5 linked regions of the Homo sapiens genome follow. The protein of the gene in region 1 purifies or fractionates together with the protein of each later gene. This does not show direct contact. Each region holds a gene or a part of one and is shown in the gene's direction. Other genes may lie near its edges.

Evidence for each region.
Region 2: the proteins of ATP2B1 (region 1) and RIMS1 purify together in Homo sapiens (co-immunoprecipitation; one large-scale study listed by IntAct). This does not show direct contact.
Region 3: the proteins of ATP2B1 (region 1) and TRIM71 purify together in Homo sapiens (affinity purification with mass spectrometry; one large-scale study listed by BioGRID and IntAct). This does not show direct contact.
Region 4: the proteins of ATP2B1 (region 1) and ATP6AP2 purify together in Homo sapiens (co-immunoprecipitation; one large-scale study listed by IntAct). This does not show direct contact.
Region 5: the proteins of ATP2B1 (region 1) and ACSL3 purify together in Homo sapiens (affinity purification with mass spectrometry; one large-scale study listed by BioGRID and IntAct). This does not show direct contact.

Annotation. Positions count from the first base shown.
Region 1 is NC_000012.12:89,698,820-89,702,338, reverse strand, and holds part of ATP2B1 (plasma membrane calcium-transporting ATPase 1), read left to right. Parts: intron 1-3,519. UniProt on the Homo sapiens protein: Catalyzes the hydrolysis of ATP coupled with the transport of calcium from the cytoplasm to the extracellular space thereby maintaining intracellular calcium homeostasis.
Region 2 is NC_000006.12:72,246,547-72,250,065, forward strand, and holds part of RIMS1 (regulating synaptic membrane exocytosis protein 1), read left to right. Parts: intron 1-1,468; coding exon 1,469-1,581; intron 1,582-3,519. UniProt on the Homo sapiens protein: Rab effector involved in exocytosis. May act as scaffold protein that regulates neurotransmitter release at the active zone.
Region 3 is NC_000003.12:32,883,991-32,887,509, forward strand, and holds part of TRIM71 (E3 ubiquitin-protein ligase TRIM71), read left to right. Parts: intron 1-1,943; coding exon 1,944-2,078; intron 2,079-3,519.
Region 4 is NC_000023.11:40,583,970-40,587,488, forward strand, and holds part of ATP6AP2 (renin receptor precursor), read left to right. Parts: intron 1-3,519. UniProt on the Homo sapiens protein: Multifunctional protein which functions as a renin, prorenin cellular receptor and is involved in the assembly of the lysosomal proton-transporting V-type ATPase (V-ATPase) and the acidification of the endo-lysosomal system.
Region 5 is NC_000002.12:222,930,522-222,934,040, forward strand, and holds part of ACSL3 (fatty acid CoA ligase Acsl3), read left to right. Parts: intron 1-99; coding exon 100-291; intron 292-2,644; coding exon 2,645-2,759; intron 2,760-3,519. UniProt on the Homo sapiens protein: Acyl-CoA synthetases (ACSL) activates long-chain fatty acids for both synthesis of cellular lipids, and degradation via beta-oxidation.

The DNA of each region.
Region 1 (3,519 bases):
TATTTTTCTCTTTATCAAAATACAACTTGACTCTGAAGGCCTTTTATAAAGTAGCTCAGTGTTTTCTAAATTGTGTTTTAGAATGCTGGTTCCAAAAAATATTAATAGGGATTTCCTGGGGGAAAGAGGCACAACCAAACTCCAGGATATGCTGGTTTATGCAGTTTGGAACTTCTCTGGTACTTCAAGGTGCTAATAAGGGCTGAATCTAAATGTGGCTAGTGTTTTGTCCTCTCATTTCACAAAACTCCCTTTAGTGGAACATCTCACCTTGTTAACTTTGTGTACCAGGATCACTGCTTTGCACAACTCCAGGGGATGCTGTTCACATACAACACAAAATGAATTGTGTTTCCTGGAGTTGAGAGCTGTGTTGCATACTGTAGTATTGCTGACTGTCCACTGTGTGACGGTCTTAGAGTCTGGTGGTCCCTCATCCTTTTGTTGTGAATGTGTATGTGTTTTTCCTCTCACCTGATAGGACCCTTAGGGGCCAGATGCTGTGCTTGATGCCTATAAGTCCTAGCACTTTGGGAGGCTGAGGCAGGAGGTTCGCTTGAGGCCAGGAGTTCGAGGCTGCCTGGGTGACACAGCAAAGAACCTGTTTACCAAACAAAAAAACCAAATTAACTGCCACATTGAAATTCAGAAGTGGAAAAGTCCTGCCTGTAGAGAAGCTAAATTCTACTGTCCTAGTAACATTCTGTGAAATGTATGTAGCTATCTTCCAGAAATAAAACATTGCCTTATGAACCCATCTGAGTAAGGTTAAAATTCCAAAGGTAAAAAGGTTTTAAAAATCTCCCAGAAAAATTTCCTTAACCTTCTCTGCTTTACTTTAACAGAAGCTACACAATGTCTAAATCCTAAACCAATATGCCAAAAAAAATAGTACCTGAACATTTGCTGGATAAAGTTCTATATATCGTGATATAGAACCCTATATCTTATCTCAGTTCTTTTATGTTATCTCCAAATGAATTACTAAGACAAAGGGATAATAAATGGGAAGTGTACAACCCGGAGGACTTCAGACCAGAAAATCAAAGAGAGATGATGGGAAAGGGTGGAGTAATGCTGAGTTTTGAAGAATGGGCACATTTAGACAGACCAAAGACTGAGCATCATATCATTGCTGCCGTTCCATGAACTGAGAGCAAACTGTTAGATCATGACCTGCTACAGAATCACTAGGCATCAGGAAGAAGAGTAGGTATATGGTCTGTATTAGAGTATAGCAATGGATTATTCTTCCAGCTGCCAAGAAGTCAAGAAGGAAAGCCTGTATTTGACTTTATCATTTCTATTGAATGTCTGAGTGATACATAGAGTAGTAATTTTAGACATTTAAGTAACTAAAGATTTATATAGCTTTAGTATGTAAGCTGTTATATTTAAAAATGCTTGAAAAAATAAGAGTTGTTCTCCAGAAATTATTCATTTTCCTATGATTAGCACAGCTGAGACCTTACAGGTGCACTGCTATTGAGTATTCTCCCAACCTTTTAAATTTTATAGGTCTAATTGTTGGTAAGGTATTGTGGAAGGAGTTCTAAGACTTGCTCCTGCTTTAATTGACGTTGCAATAATAATCATAATAAAATTGTTGGTCAAAGAGTAGCACAGGAGTGGTTTTGGTAGTGAAGAAAATAAAAAGAAATCTGAAGGTAGAGATGAATGGAATCAGCAAAAGTGAAATTGGTTAGATTAGTAAGTTGTTTTTCTACTGGGACACTCATGGATGATACTGACATATACTCCATTCTCCCTTGCTAATATCTAGATTTTTTTAGTACCTCTAATACTAAGAGATTTTTAATTTCTTTGCTATACTTCTGTCCTTTTCTTCTCTATTCATGCTCAAAAGAAAGTAAGTGCTATAACTACTCTTTTTTGTTTGCTTAAAAAATGACTCATGAACTTAAGGTACTTAAGTGTGGACACTCCTGACAACTAATACCATAGCGGAGAACTACTGAGTTAAAGGGTACCAGTGCAAATAGAGGGCTGAAAACAAGGAAGGTCAGTCAGTGAATGGGAAAGAAATATGACAAAGCCTAGGAAAGGGAGCTCCTCTAGCATCAAACTGTCTGCATGTCGAGTCTCAGAAAAACAAGGATTCGTCAGTCAACCCCTTTCTGCATGCACAGTGGATTTAGGGTAAAGTTTATGTTACCCTGTCTTTGGCCGAGCGCAGTGGCTCCTGCCTGTAATCCCAGCCCTTTGGGAGACTGAAGCAGGAGGATTGCTTGACCACAGGAGTCTGAGACCAGCCTGGGCAACATGACAAAACCTCATCTCTACTAAAAAAAAAAAAAAAAAAAAATTTAGCCAGGCATGGTGTCGTGTACCTGTAGTCCTAGCTACTTGGGAGGCTGAGGTAGGAGGATCGCTTGATTCTAGGAGGTAGAGGTTGCAGTGAACTGAGATTGTGCCACAGCACTACAGCCTGGGCGACAGAGGGAGACCGTCTCTGTCTCAAAAAATAGATGACCCTGCCTTTGAGCTTAAGCACTACTGTTTTTATGTACATAATTTAATGCTGGAACTTGATCACCTCCGGCCCTCCTGCTGACAGCATTTCTTTTGCTAGAAATACCCACCTTTCTCAGAGCCTGTGTCTCCTTTGGTTTTGGTTTTTACTCCATGATATGTTAAGGACTCACCAGATTTAAATGTGAAATTTATCTTCACCACTAAAAAGCCCACTTGTCTTGGATAAATCACTTGGTTTCTTTAACTCCTCAAAAAGTACAAAGTCAGGGGGTTTTGATTTTTCTCTCTTGAAAATTTGGCTTTTAACAAAATTTGTATAGCAAAAACAGGTTACCCGCTCCCCCCAAACTTTCAACCATTTATTTCTTTATTCTGTTAGGTTTGCCTTCCAATTTTGTCTTTTAACTACTTTGTCATCATTTTGACGTTTCGTCTGTGATACACCGTGTTTGATTTATGAAGATAAATACATTTATTGAAAAGCTAAATTATCTAAGATTTCAGTTAAACAAGTGGCATATTACTAGCATTTAACTCTGCCTCTTGCCAAACATATACTAAAATGAGAATAAGGGAATTCTTTTTTAAAAAAGCCATAAATCCACAAGGGAGAAGAGAAACCCACACCAAAATTTTAGAAGGCGTTGACTTAGTAGACTTAAAAAGCTGATCTCTAAGTAATAGAAAAGCCCAGAAACAAGTCAGTTTATAGAATTCCCTGAGAGCTCAAAGCTGGGAAAACATGGGACCCATGGTGAAGAGGGGACAGGGGGGCAAAACGGGAGAACTGGTTGAAATTTTAGGAATTTGATACCCAGATATCTTTCCCTCTGTCTGTACTCTGTGATCTCTTTTCCTTCATCCTTGCAGAAGGCTGGAAGCTTGCTTTCTGGAGAAGGCTATGCACACTGGGAATACAGTTGAAAACCAGGGTACCACACTCAAAACCGAGTGTTTACCTATTTATGTTAAGATCACCAGTCTTCTTCCCTCACCCAGCTTTCAGAATTCTGGCCAGAATAG
Region 2 (3,519 bases), on another chromosome or scaffold:
AACCCAAGTTAAAGAAATAGAAAATAAAAGGTGATTTAGGGGAAAACCAGTGATAGTGATTAGAAGGGAGAAGAAAATATGAAAGTAGGATAAACAAGGAAACAGACACTAGGTTATCATATAAAATGCATACCATCATGTTCTGCTAGAGGTGGACCCAGTTTTGGCTTTGAGCTTTCTGGTGACCAATACAAAGAGGGAAGTGGGACTAATTGCATAATTTATATTATTGATATGATTAAAAAATACACTGATTGCCATAATATTACAAACAAGCATTATTAGAAATAACAGTGTTCCTGTTCTGAGACTTAAGGAAAATGTATTTTAAATATACCTGGGAAAAGACACATAGTAACAATTTTATATAGCTGTTTTTTATCACTAAATGTTTTCGGAGGGCACAAAAGGATGACATGAGAATTAATTTGTACTTATAGAAAAAAATGTGCGGATTGCACATACTCAGGCAATGCTTCATAAACAGTATTTCTCAATGAAGCATTGGCTAAGTTTGAATGGTGGTGAGTTCAAGGTTGTACTTGCTGGATCAATAGCCTTCTATAAACACTCTGTATTGCTCTCTGTGTCAGGGTATACTTGGAACAGTGAAGAACTCCACCAAGTGGCTGAGAGGAGACCCAGCCTCCTCCATGTGAAGTTGAAACAAATCACTAGTGGTGAATTACTTGAAGCAGCATTTTCAGAGGTTCAGGATACTCATTTATAAGATCAAAACTAAGATAGATGGGGAGGCCGAGGTGGGCGGATCACCTGAGGTCAGGAGTTCGAGACCAGCCTCAACATGGAGAAACCCCGTCTCTACTAAAAATACAAAATTAGCCGGACGTGTTGGTGCATGCCTGTAATCCCAGCTACTCAGGAGGCTGAGGCAGAAGAATTGCTTGAACCTGCGAGGTGGAGGTTGCGGTGAGCCAAGATCATGCCATTGCACTCCAGCCTGGGCAACAAGAGCGAAACTCTGTCTCAAAAAAAAAAAAAAAAAAAACCTAAGATAGATGGTATATCTGATTTTAAAACAGTGGCAAAGTCTTGGCTTAGATGTGGCTTATAAATTATATTATGTATGCATTCATTTTAATTTCTCAGTAAGGACAGTTTATAATAGATGATCCATTAGCCAAGATAATTAGTGTTAACAGGCACTATCTTCCTTATCTCTGAAGCAGACCTTTACCCATATGTGAAGTCATGCAAGAGCCTGTGCAATACCATGCACTCCAGAAATGTAGATCAATTCTTTCCAGTTGAAATAAGCATAATACTTCGTTATATCATTCTTAATATTTTTTAAATAGACAACTAAAGACAATCTATCCCATTAAAAGTAGGTTCTGTTATCAGTGATAGTAATTATGGTTTTATACAAATAAAGGATGCATTTAACATTTTATTAAAAATATTTCCTACACTTACAAATATTACTTACTTTTTTTTCTCATTTTAGGTTCAAGTTCCTTTGAATCTCAGAAGATGGAAAGGCCTTCCATTTCTGTTATTTCTCCAACAAGTCCTGGAGCTCTAAAAGATGCCCCACAAGTCTTACCAGGGCAACTTTCTGTATGTATTTTTTGTACATGTTGGAGGCTGTTAGTATTTGCATACACTGTCTGAGTCTGTCTTTAAATATGTTCGCCTTTCCTTGAAGCCTGCAATAAATACATAGTCATTTAACACCATAATCTACTTCATTAGTTTTTCATGCATTTTTTATTATTCCTTTATTCACATATTTATTCAGAAATACTTACTGAGTGCTTGCAGTGTGCCAGATACTCTGAACATTAATTGATGAATGGTAACATAAGTAAATAAAGAGTTCATATTTTTTGTGTGCTATGTAAAAGTTTCTAAGGTAAATAATTGTTTACACATAATATTAGGAGTTCATACCCCATTTATGTAATAACCTTATGAGCCTAGAGCCTGAAGAGCCTAAATTTGGAATATTCTTTTTAACTTCCTAAGGCATTTGGCAAAACTCTTCGTTGCCACTGAAAGCTCTCTGAAAAAGCTACCATTTTCTCACTATTGCCTTATTATGTGATCTGGGGAAACCTGGAGTGAAGAAACTAGGGTTAAGGATAATGAAGAACCATATATTTGTAGATTATGATGGAAAATGTGATGTTGATATTATAATTTAAGGACTTCAAACTATTTGTTTCAAATTGTTACACAAATAATGACCTTTTGCTCCTCTGATAATGTGTGGATTTCTGTGGTTTGCCTTTGTGGTTTTCTCTTGATTTTAATGAGACAGAGAAGATATATGTAAGCTTATTGCTCAAGGGCTTTTATGGTTTTAACTTTTATTTTTAGTATATTGAATATCTTTGTAATACCCTTTGGGTTTATCTGCCGGCCATCTTTTTCTTCAGTGTATGTGTAAATCTCTCATATTCTCCACATATTTTGAAAGAGGATGGAAACCCATTCTGGTTCTGTGAAACCCCATCTTAGGTATCAATTGGGAATCAGAGAAATGGATTTACACAGATCCAGGTTTGAATTCTTAATCTGTTCCTTACCATGAAAAGCTAATCCTATGTTAAATTAGTTTATTTTGTTTTAATGACTCTCAAATATGTTCTAACATATACCTATTAACAGCATATGCTTACTTAAACATAAAATGAAAAGTAACTTCTAAATTAAAGGAAAAAAATTAAAGTTAACATTGTTAAAGTGTCATCACCACTGCCAGGGCAGATACTGTAATAATGACTGATAAAATTCCAATTCTTGTGAGTTTGACAATAGGATTTTAGTACGTTACTTCCCCATTATTCTTTGGTCTACTGTCATGAAATCTTGGTTAATAGAAATATCATTTGGCCTTCTTGTAGTTTGAAGATGTCATTTGTGTATTGTATCCTTAGTTTTTTCCTCCTTCTCTCATGAAAAATAACCTGTAATAGTTTAATTCTAAAAATTAAATGACGGCTTGGTGCAGTGGCTCACACCTTTAATCCCAGCACTTTGAGAGACTGAAGAGTTCAAGACTAGCCTGGCAACATAGCAAGACCCCCGATTCCACAAAAAATTTAAAAAACTGGCCAGACATGATGATGTACACCTGTGGTTCCATCTACCTGGGAGGCTGAACTGGGAGAATTGTTGGTTCCAGCAGTTTGAGGCTGCAGTGAGCTATGATCATGCCACTGCATTCCAGCCTGTGACAGAGTGAGACCATGTCTCTAAAAAATAAAAAAATAAGTGAGAAAAAATACCAGGAAATACTAAACGGTGCCTGTATAAAATAGGCCCACAGTAAATATGTTTTATGATCTCTTCTAATTCTTTGTATTTCTTATTCCTAATATCCAAACTCTTGTTTTTTTTAATTTTAACTACCTGTGACACCAGAGAAAGCATTTAGTCACGCTATAATAATTTAGACACATATAATCTTCAAACTCTTATTTTTAACATTTAAGAACAATAATAATGATTTTATGTCTCCCTCTTCCCTTAGTTTTTTGGAAAAATTATTAT
Region 3 (3,519 bases), on another chromosome or scaffold:
CCCTCTGGATCTACCCAGTTCCCCTGTGAATCAGCTCAGTGGATCCTTAGGTCACACAGGATCCTCTTAGGCAGAGAATGCAGTGTGGCACCTAACCACTGGAGTCACGGGTGGTGTGCTTTTTTGTTTTGTTTTGTTTAAATAAAGACCAGGTTTCACCATGTTGGCCAGGCTGGTCTTAAACTCCTGAGCCCAAGTGATTTGCCTGCCTCGGCCTCCCAAAGTGCTGGGATTACAGGCATTAGCCTCTGTGCCTGGCTTCCATGGGTGTTTTTGGGGCTGCACCTTTGAGCGTGTCTTGCATGCCATGAATGTGTCAGCTGTCATCCAGAGCAAGTCAAACTGTTGGGCAGGAAGAATATTCATAAAAATAAGGTAGATCGTGTATTGTATGATGATGCCATCTATATGAAATACCCAGAACAGGCCAGGCGCAGTGGCTCATGCCTATAATGCCAGCACTTTTGGAGGCCTAGGTGGGCAGATCACTTGAGCCCAGGAGTTCGAGACCAGCCTAGGCAATGTGACAAGATTCCCCCATCTCTATTTGAAAAAAAAAAAAAAGAAAGAAAAAGAAATGCCCAGGACAGACAGATCTGTAGAGAGACAGTAGATTAGTGATCGCCATGGGGTAGAAGGAGGGAAGTGGAAATGACTCCTTAATGGTAATGGCCTTTGCTTTTTGGGTGGTGAAAATGTTCTGTAGCTAGATAGTGGTGGTGATTATACAACACTGAACATACTAAGTGTGACTAATGGTAAATTTTATGATAGGAGCTAAGTGGCCTGACGGGACACAATGGCTGAACTTTTGTCCCAGGTGTTTTATCAGCTGAGAACTATTAATAACAGTGTTTTACTCTGTGCCAGGTGCTGAGCTCAGCTCTACCCATGCATTTCCCTCACATCTACCTTTACCAAGGTTGGAGAGGACCAGGAGCTTGTCCAAGGCCTTACAACTAGTAGGAGGCCCTAAACTAACCCAGGATTGGAACCTGGGTTACCTGACTCCAGGGATGACTGGCCTGGTTTGCCCCGGACTGTCCCAGTTTTAGCATTGAAAGTCCCACATCCCAGAAACCCCTCAGTACAGAGCAAACTGGATGATTGGTCACTCTGATTCCTAAGCCCATACCAGGCTCCAGTTTGGGCTTCCCTGACACCCTCCTGATTGAATCACCTACCCGAAACCTGTTGTACCAAGAGCAATCACTTTGGAATCCCTGATTTAATAGCTCGGTATCTCAACCATGTAATATTAATGATAACACCATGCCTTCTGTCTGGATTAATTAACAATAATACGTCTGATTAAACTGGCTGATTTACTACGGCTGGTACAGGGTGGCGTGTGTGATGACGTGTAGATGGTCTCTGACCACGGGGCACAGCTCCTTAGGTAGATCGGGGGATATTCCCAGTGTGCACTTGGTGTTCGTTCTGGCTGGGGTGAGCTGTGTTGCCAGTGCCTTGACAAAAGCAGGATGGATTAGCCACTACCCTGTCGCACACCCTCACGTAAGGGATGTTCCTGGCCTGCGGGGTTTCGCCTAGGCAGAGGGTGAGGCCAGGAAGTCTGGGGAAGTTGCTTGTGTGGCTGGAGTTGTACATTTTACATCTGATCCTCATTCCCAGTTTTCATCTGTCACCCAGCTACACTGGTTTTGCTGTGTCAGAGTATCTCTTAATAGTTCTGACATTCACTGTGTAGGTGCTATTTCTCATGCAAAGAAATCCAGCTCTTGCCAGCAACTCCTTTAGTTACATGTCAAACAGATGCCAGTCTCTCCCTAAGTGCCTGTTTTCCTTCCAAGGGAGTGAATCAAGTGGTCTGGGAACCCAGGGTGTCAGCTTTTCAAGTCTGACAGAGCAGATTCAAATGTTTTGTATAAGGAATGACAGTCCTTCTAATGCCTCGAAGTTGTTTCTTTTTGGTTTTCCAGCTGAGCATCGAGCAGGCCCAGACGGTGGCGGAACAGGTGGAGATGAAGGCGAAGGTTGTGCAGTCGGAGGTCAAAGCCGTGACGGCGAGGCATAAGAAAGCCCTGGAGGAACGCGAGTGTGAGCTGCTGTGGAAGGTAACAGGGAGAGCTCCCCCACCCAGGCTGTGCCCACTCGGCTTCCATGAACCTCAGCAGCACTCTACGGGACTCTTTACAGATCCAGGAGCCAAGCTCTAAGTTTAAAACACTTCGTAATTTTCCAGAAAGCCTGTTAGCAGAAAGATGCAGGGGGTCCCTGGAACATTGTGGGTGCTGTCTGCAGTAAAACAACAAGAAGCCTTTTCAGAAGTACGTGGGTAACCAAGACTGGAAGCGGTCTCCAGTTTTATATTGCATTCACTCAAAAGGAGGCTAAAGAAGGGAGCATAGTCGAAACTGTTGTTAAGAAAGGCAGGCTGGTAGGAAACATCCCTATTTTTGGTGACCTGGCTGGTTGCACTTCCTGACCTCTTGTGGAAAACCAGTTTTCCTCTTCGGAGGGCAGTGAGTGTGTGTCCTTTCTTCCTGTTGGAGCAGGAAAGAGTGCCGAGCACACTAGTGTGCTGTTTAGATAAAAATCAGCTAGAAAGACTACTTGCCCCACCCAAGCCAGCATTCCAACTGTTCCTTTTCTGATTTTATGTCCCCACTCAGAAAGGAGGAGAGTTAGGTCTATGAAAGGGCCAGTACTCCATGCCAATTCTTTAACTATAATTACATTCTCTGAACACACGAAAAAGACTAGAGCTGATTTATAAGGGTATCCTTGTGGAGTGTGCCTGTTTCCATCTCCAAACAATATGATGATGGTGGGGATGGCACCTCAGTTTCTGCAAGTGAACTTTGCTAACTACTGGGCCCTACAATGTTCTGCAAGGTGTCCCTGGATTTTGCATTGCATTTTCCATTTAGTTAACTTCACAACTGGATGGATGCTTTCTGCCTCTTCTGACCTCTTAAGGAATATGGCTCAATTGCTTTCTGACAAGAGACTTTGGAGGTGTTAGTCCAAGATTTTTAATTCAGCATATTTTTTGAGCACCTTTGTGGGCATGACATCATTTTCAGACACTCAGATGTCCCCATGGGTCTGCCAGTGTTATGCCACCCACGAATGTTAATTATAACTGAGGGGCCCATTTCTTGCAACCTGAGAGCTTTGTAGTGAACTCTGCCACAAACTCGCTCTTCTGGATTTCCTGATGAAAAAGGCCTTTGTGTGTGGGGGTTTCTGCCGCTTTCACCTTAGTTACCCTCCCTCCTGTGAGGCTGACCCACTGTCCTCTCTAAAGGCAGTTCTGTTTCAGAAGAAATAGCAAGTTTTTACTCTTGGGAGAAGCCTATTTGAAAGAAGAGTCCATCCCTTCTTCATTGTAGTAAGCAGTTTCTGCTTGCCCAAAAATTCATCCTCAGAGCATTCCAAAATAAGCTTCCTTATTTTGGATACTTTTGCTATAGAACCTTGCTCCAAATCCTGTGGGGTCCCTCTCTCTTTGACTAATTACTGACTTTTTTTTTTTTTTTTTTTTTCTGTTCC
Region 4 (3,519 bases), on another chromosome or scaffold:
AGGAAAGCAGTAAGAGTCAAGAATGGAGCCCTCAGATCTCCAAAGTGGAGTATGCTAGGTGATCCATTTGGATGCCAGATGAATGTACTAGAAATTCCATTTATATCCTTTTTGTTTTTGTTTTTGAGACAGGGTCTCACTCCGTCACCCAGGCTGGAGTGCACTGGTGTGATCACAGCTCACTGCAGCCTCGACCACCCAGGCTCAAGCGATTCTCCCACCTCAGCCTCCCTAGTAGCTGGGACCACAGGCGCATGCCACCATACCCAGCTAATTTTTTGTTTGTTTTTGTAGAGATGAGGTCTCAAACTCTTGGGCTCAAGTGATCCTCCTCCTCAGCCTCCCAAAGTGCTGGGATTACACGCAGGTGTGAGCCATCGCACCCAGCCTCTATCTTTTTTTTTTTTTTTTTCCTTTTTTGAGACAGAGTCTTGCTCTGTCACCCAGGCTGAAGTGCAGTGGCACGATCTCGGCTCACTACAACCTCCGCCTCTGGGGTTCAAGTGATTCTTGTCCCTCAGCCTCCCAAGTAGCTGGGACTACTCTTGTTGCCCAGGCTGGAATGCAATGGCATGATCTTGGCTCACTGCAAGCTCCACCTTCCGGGTTCAAGTGATTCTCCTGCCTCAGTCTCCCGAGTAGCTAGGATTACAGGCATGCACCACCATGCCTGGCTAATTTTGTATTTTTTTAGTGGAGACGGGGTTTCTCCATGTTGGTCAGGCTGGTCTTGAACTCCCAACCTCAGGTGCTCTGCCTCTTGAGTAGCTGGGACTACAGGCATGCACCACCACATCTGTCTAACTTGTGTATTTTTTTGGTAGAGACGGGGTTTCACTATGTTCACCAGACTGGTCTCAAACTCCTGACCTCAAATGATCTGCCTGCCTCAGCCTCTGAAAGTGCTGGGATTACAGGCATGAGCCACCACACCTGGCCTCATTTTTGTATTTTTAGTAGAGATGAGGTTTCGCCATTATGGCCAGGCTGGTCTTGAACTCTTGGCCTCAAGTGATCCGCCTGTCTTGGCCTCCCAAAGTGCTGGGATTACAGGTGTGAGCCATCATGCCTGGCCTATTTTTATCTTATCTCTTTTTGAATAATAATGGTCAGGTATTTTGTAGACTGTCCCTCAATTTGGGTTTATCTGATGTTTTCTCATTATTAGATTGGGAAAAATACTACACAGGTATCTCATCCTTTTAAAAACTTTTATTTTTGTATGCTTTGTAATATAGCACAAATCAAATACATAATCTATTACTATAGTAGAAGTATATACTTTACATGGAGAGGATGAGAGGGACAGAGAGAAGAAAGAAGGGCTACTTTCCAATTTTGGGCTGACAGGGTTGAAATCTAAAAAGTTTGGCTACCACTGCTTTAAAGGACAGGAAGGGAAAGAAACAGAGGAGAAGCAGCCAAAGGGATTGCAAGGAAAACCAGGAGCCGTGGCTGCATGAAGACCAAAGCAGGGGCTTTTCAAGGAGGGAGTTGCCAGTATCAAATGCTTTGGGAAGTTAGATAAAATTAAGGGATGGAAATTGCCTTTTGAGTTTGGGGAGTCGTTTCAGTGGCATGGTGGGCTTGGAAGGTGTGGGCGGCCAGGTGGGGTGGCTCACGCCTGTAATCCCAGCACTTTGGGAGGCCGAGGCAGGCGGATTGTTTGAGGTCAGGAGTTCGAGACCAGTCTGGCCAACGTAGTGAAACCCTGTCTCTACCAAAAAAATACACAAGTTAGCCAGACGTGGTGGTGCGTGCCTGTAGTCCCAGCCACTCAGGAGTCTGAGGCAGGAGAATCTCTTGAACCTGGGAGGTGGAGGTTGCGGTGAGCTGAGATCCTTACCACTGCACTCCAACCTGGGTGACAGCAAGACCCTGTCTCAAAAAATAAAAATAAAAAAAATTTTTAAAATTTTGTGGGTTAAGTAGTAAACTTAAAATGAAGTATAGAAGCAAACGGTGGTTGACTGCTCTTCCTGGATTCTTCCTCTGAAGGGGAGCAAGGCTGGTAGCTGGTGGAGACTGGTAGGACCAAAGGAGGTTTTTTATGGTTTTAGTTATAGAATGGGAGTGCCTTGAGCGTATTTTTATGCTGAAGTGAAAGGGCCAGTGGAGAGGGAAAAAACTGGTGGTTTGAAGTGTGACTTCATTCATTCATTAACTCAACAAGTACTTATTGAGCACCAATGTGTCGGGCTCTGTTCTCAGCCCTGGGGATAGTGTGTGAACAAGACGCACTGAAATCCCCGCCTTCATGGAGCTTGTATTCTATAGGGCCATCTTTTGATGGCTATTACCATATAGCCACCTCACTCCTGATGTGTTGTCTGTCCTAGAAGAGTGGCTTCCTTAACAAACAGTGAAGGAACAAAGGTCCCTAAAAAGACTGAACACAGGATTGTCTTAGTCTGGAGGAGGGACATCCCTGCCCTCATGTCTGGAGGGAGAGGAGTTACAGATAGGGGCTTATGCAGATAAATTTGTGGTGGGGAGAGGAAGCAGGTAGCTCAAGAAATTCCTCTGTTTTCTCTGTGAAGCTGGAGATGAGGTTATCTGGTGAGACTGAGTTGGGGAGTGATAGCATAGGAAGTTGAAAGTTAGGAAGCCCATTTCAGTTCAGTACAAGGAAAAACTTTTCAAAGGACTAGAATGTTAGGAAAATGGAGCCAGTTGCTGGCAAATGTAGTTCGTATATTGAGGTGGTGTCCCCATCACTGGTAGTATTGAAATAGAGGAGGGGTGACTTTCTGCCAGGTATCCCTGAGACATGCTTATACTTATAATAAGCAGAAGTTTGGACAAATGACCTTCCTCTGTATAGGAGTCCCTGACTCTAAGGTTTTCTAAAGCTCTGGGCTTCTGAAGGACTGTTGTACAGGCATGGAAGTTGAAACTACGAAGCTGGGGCAAAGTTATTTGGTATAGGTTTGCCAGAATTGAATGAGTAGGGCCGTGTCTCAAAACAAGGGTATCTCCAAATCAAAATATGGTTTTTTAAATGTGTATGGTACCTGGGGCTGGGCGCGGTGGCTCACGCCTGTAATCCCAGCACATAGGGAGGCTGAGGCGGGCCGATCACTTGAGGTCAGGAGTTTGAGACCAGCTTGGCTAACATGGTGTCACCCTGTCTCTACTGAAAATACAAAATTTAGCCAGGCATGGTGGCACACACCTGTAATCCCAGCTACTTGGGAGGCTGAGGCAGGAGAATTGCTTGAACCTGGCAGGCAGAGGTTGCAGTGAGCCAATATTGTGCCACTGCACTCCAGCCTAGGCGACAGTGTGAGACTCTGTCTCAAAACAAACAAACAAAATATGTGTATGGTTCTTGGGAAGCATAGGTCTCTTGGTTCCCCATTTTTCTTAGTGTTTGCAGTACTACTACTTTAGTGAACCAAGATATCTATCAGTTACAAAAGACCATTCCATTCTGCTAATTTTTTTGGTCTGTCTTCAGCTAGAGCAGTTTGGACATTCCTGTTCTGACAGCTGTGCCGGATTGAAATTTGTAACTCC
Region 5 (3,519 bases), on another chromosome or scaffold:
TAATTGGATTAAAATAAGATGACTGTTTAGAAACTAGTAGTTTCAAATTTTCATGTGTTGTATTTAACTCAACTATTAACTCAATTATTATTTTATTAGGTGGATACTTTAATACTGATAAGCCACACCCCAGGGGTGAAATTCTTATTGGGGGCCAAAGTGTGACAATGGGGTACTACAAAAATGAAGCAAAAACAAAAGCTGATTTCTTTGAAGATGAAAATGGACAAAGGTGGCTCTGTACTGGGGATATTGGAGAGTTTGAACCCGATGGATGCTTAAAGATTATTGGTAAGTCATCTAATATTTTTTTGAAAATGAATGTTTCTGAAATAGTTTACACAAGAAGCACAATATATTTAGAGGAGGCGCTGAATAATATAAATCTTTATGTAATCTTAGTTTGGGTTGTTGCATCACTCCTGGAATATAAAATATTACGGACTGTGGAATTTATGAGGCCTGACATGTTATGAGTTCTCAAAGATGGTTCAGCAGCAGTGGTATTTTAAATTACTCTTAGATAACCTTCAGTCATTGTTTCCTGCCTGTGTTTCTGACATCTAGAGATTAGTGGATGGAGCTCTCACAGTCTGAACTGCACCCTTGCCTTGCCCTGCCCAGGAGAATAGAGGAAAGCCAGGCAGCTCAAGTACTATGACTCATATGGGTTGAAAAATACCTTATTCTGCTTCTCCTTTTAGGTTCTTTTTTTTTAAAAGTTAATGGCATTTCAGTTAGCCGTGTGTGGTGTCTTTGTCGGGCACCTGTAATCCCAGCTACTTGGGAGGCCGAGGCAGGAGAATGGCATGAACCCGGGAGGCAGAGCTTGCAGCAAGCGGAGATCGCGACACTGCACTCCAACCTGGGCAACAGAGCAAGACTCTGTCTAAAAAAAAAAAAAAAGTTAATGGCATTTCTATCCCTGTCTTGCTAACTAGAAACCTGGGAGGAGACTCAAGACTGTTCTCTTCAGTCAGCTTCCCATGCCTATTTTATATCCCACTAGTTTATTTTATGAGCTATGTCTCAAAATCATACTCTTCTCTCTTTGTCTCTCTTACTTGATCATTGGTCAGGCCTGTACCTTCTGCCACCCTCTCCCAATAATTTCTCTGTTGCCATGTTTACCCCCTTAAACACACCCTCTCACTGCCACCATGTAATTACTAAACATGGATCTTACTGGCCACAACCATTTAATGTCTCCTAGAAGCTCAGTTCAGGGTGCCCCTGTTAACATTGTTCCCCTCTTCACCTTCATCGTCAGTTGTTTTCCTCCTCCTCCTTGATGCAGCTGAAATTAGAGCTGATGTTCTTCTGGCTTTTGCCAGTGTTGTTGCACCTGACCTCTCACTTTTCCCTTAGGACTCGGCTCAAGCAGCTGAGCATAGTGACTCAGGCCTGTAATCCCAGCTACTCGGGAGGCTGAGGTGGGAGTATCACAGGAGCCCAGGAGGCCGTGATTGTGCCACTGCACTCCAGTATGAGCAACAGAGTGAGACCCTGTCTCAAAATCTCAAAACCAACCAACCATCCAACCCTCAGCTCAGGCCTCACTTGCAAGAATTTTTTCCAAATCCCCAGGTTGGAGAGTCTTAACACTTAGCGCTACCATTGTAGTACCAATGTATTGAAGTAATACGTTTTTGCATTATGCATGTCTCCAGATAGGTTGTGAACTTGCAGATGGCATTGAATATCTTCTTCACCTGCCTGGTACTAATGGATACCAGAAATAAACCTGTTCAGAAGAACATACTTGAAGCCCTGCTAATGGAGTCCATTAAGTAGAAGTTAATTGTTTTTCTTTCTTTCTTTTTTTGAGATGTAGTCTTGCTCTGTCGCCCAGGCTGGAGTGCAGTGGCACCATCTCAGCTCACTGCAACCTCTGTCTCCTGGGTTCACGCAATTCTCCTGCCTCAGCCTCCTGAGTAGCTGGGATTACAGGTGTGCACCACCACGCCCAGCTAGTTTTCGTATTTTTAGTAGAGTCGGGGTTTCACCATGTTGGCCAGGCTGGTCTCGAACTCCTGACCTCAAGTGATGTGCCCGCCTCGGCCTCCCGAAGTGCTGGGATTACAGACATGAGCCACTGGACCTGGCCTGTTTTTCTTTTAAAAGCATGGGCCGGGCGCGGTGGCTCACGCCTGTAATCCCAGCACTTTGGGAGGCCGAGGCGGGTGGATCATGAGGTCAGGAGATCGAGACCATCCTGGCTAACAAGGTGAAACCCCGTCTCTACTAAAAATACAAAAAATTAGCCGGGCGCGGTGGCGGGCGCCTGTAGTCCCAGCTACTCGGGAGGCTGAGGCAGGAGAATGGCGTGAACCCGGGAAGCGGAGCTTGCAGTGAGCCGAGATTGCGCCACTGCAGTCCGCAGTCCAGCCTGGGCGACAGAGCGAGACTCCGTCTCAAAAAAAAAAAAAAAAAAAAAAAAGCATGTATTTAGCAGTACAAAAATTAGGGCCTAATTTTAATATGTGCTTTTAATTTCAGCATAACCATTAATGCTTAATTTTGCAAAGTTTTAAATAATTTGATAGCAAATTACTTAGAGAATGGCCAGTATTTATATATGTATTAAATGTTACTAATATTATTACTCATTGTTTTCCCCTCTCCACCTTTCTTTGTTTTGCAGATCGTAAAAAGGACCTTGTAAAACTACAGGCAGGGGAATATGTTTCTCTTGGGAAAGTAGAGGCAGCTTTGAAGAATCTTCCACTAGTAGATAACATTTGTGCATATGCAAACAGGTAAGAACGTGGAATTCATACTACTTTTACTTAAAATATTTGATGTCCATAGACATTTCCTACCTGTATGGACCTTCTTTGTAAAAATGTTCCGAGAACTCTTCCTATCTGTTACTTGTGGGAATGGCCTCCTTCTCATTGCAGCCATTAGCTGACTCTTTTCCTTGTAAGGCTTCCCCTGATCTTTCTCTCTGTCCCTGTTTTCTGCTTTACGTCTCACTGCAGTGTCCCATGGAGGGAGGTGAAGAAAATAAAACCTTCCTTCCTGCTGCCTTGGTACCCCTACCTACCTGTCCCTCAGCAGGGGAAGCTTCACAGAACTACTCCAGAGGAATGGGGAGTAAAGAAGTGGCAGTGAGGAGTGTGCTGCTTACTTACTCCTGCTCTACACTTGAGCCTGCTCGGCACTCCAGGCAGGTCTTGGGGCTCCTATGTAAGCTGTGTTAAGCTGCAGCCTAAACACACAGCCTCCCCACCTCATGATGATGAAGAGGCAGCTGGGGACCTGTCTACGACAGTTGACATGAATTATTATGGGAAAATAAAATCTGTTATCAGGAAAACTAATTTAGAAACAGATGTTGGGGGTACAGCCCAAGTTAGAAATGAATTGCATTTATTTATAAATGATTCTGGTCTTTAGCCATTTAGTATTTTCTTTAGTGATGATACAGATCTGGATTTATTCATGTGATAGTAACCAGAAGCATCTTCTTCCTGATGTTACTATTTTATGGCCTTCAAAAAAGTATTTGCCTTC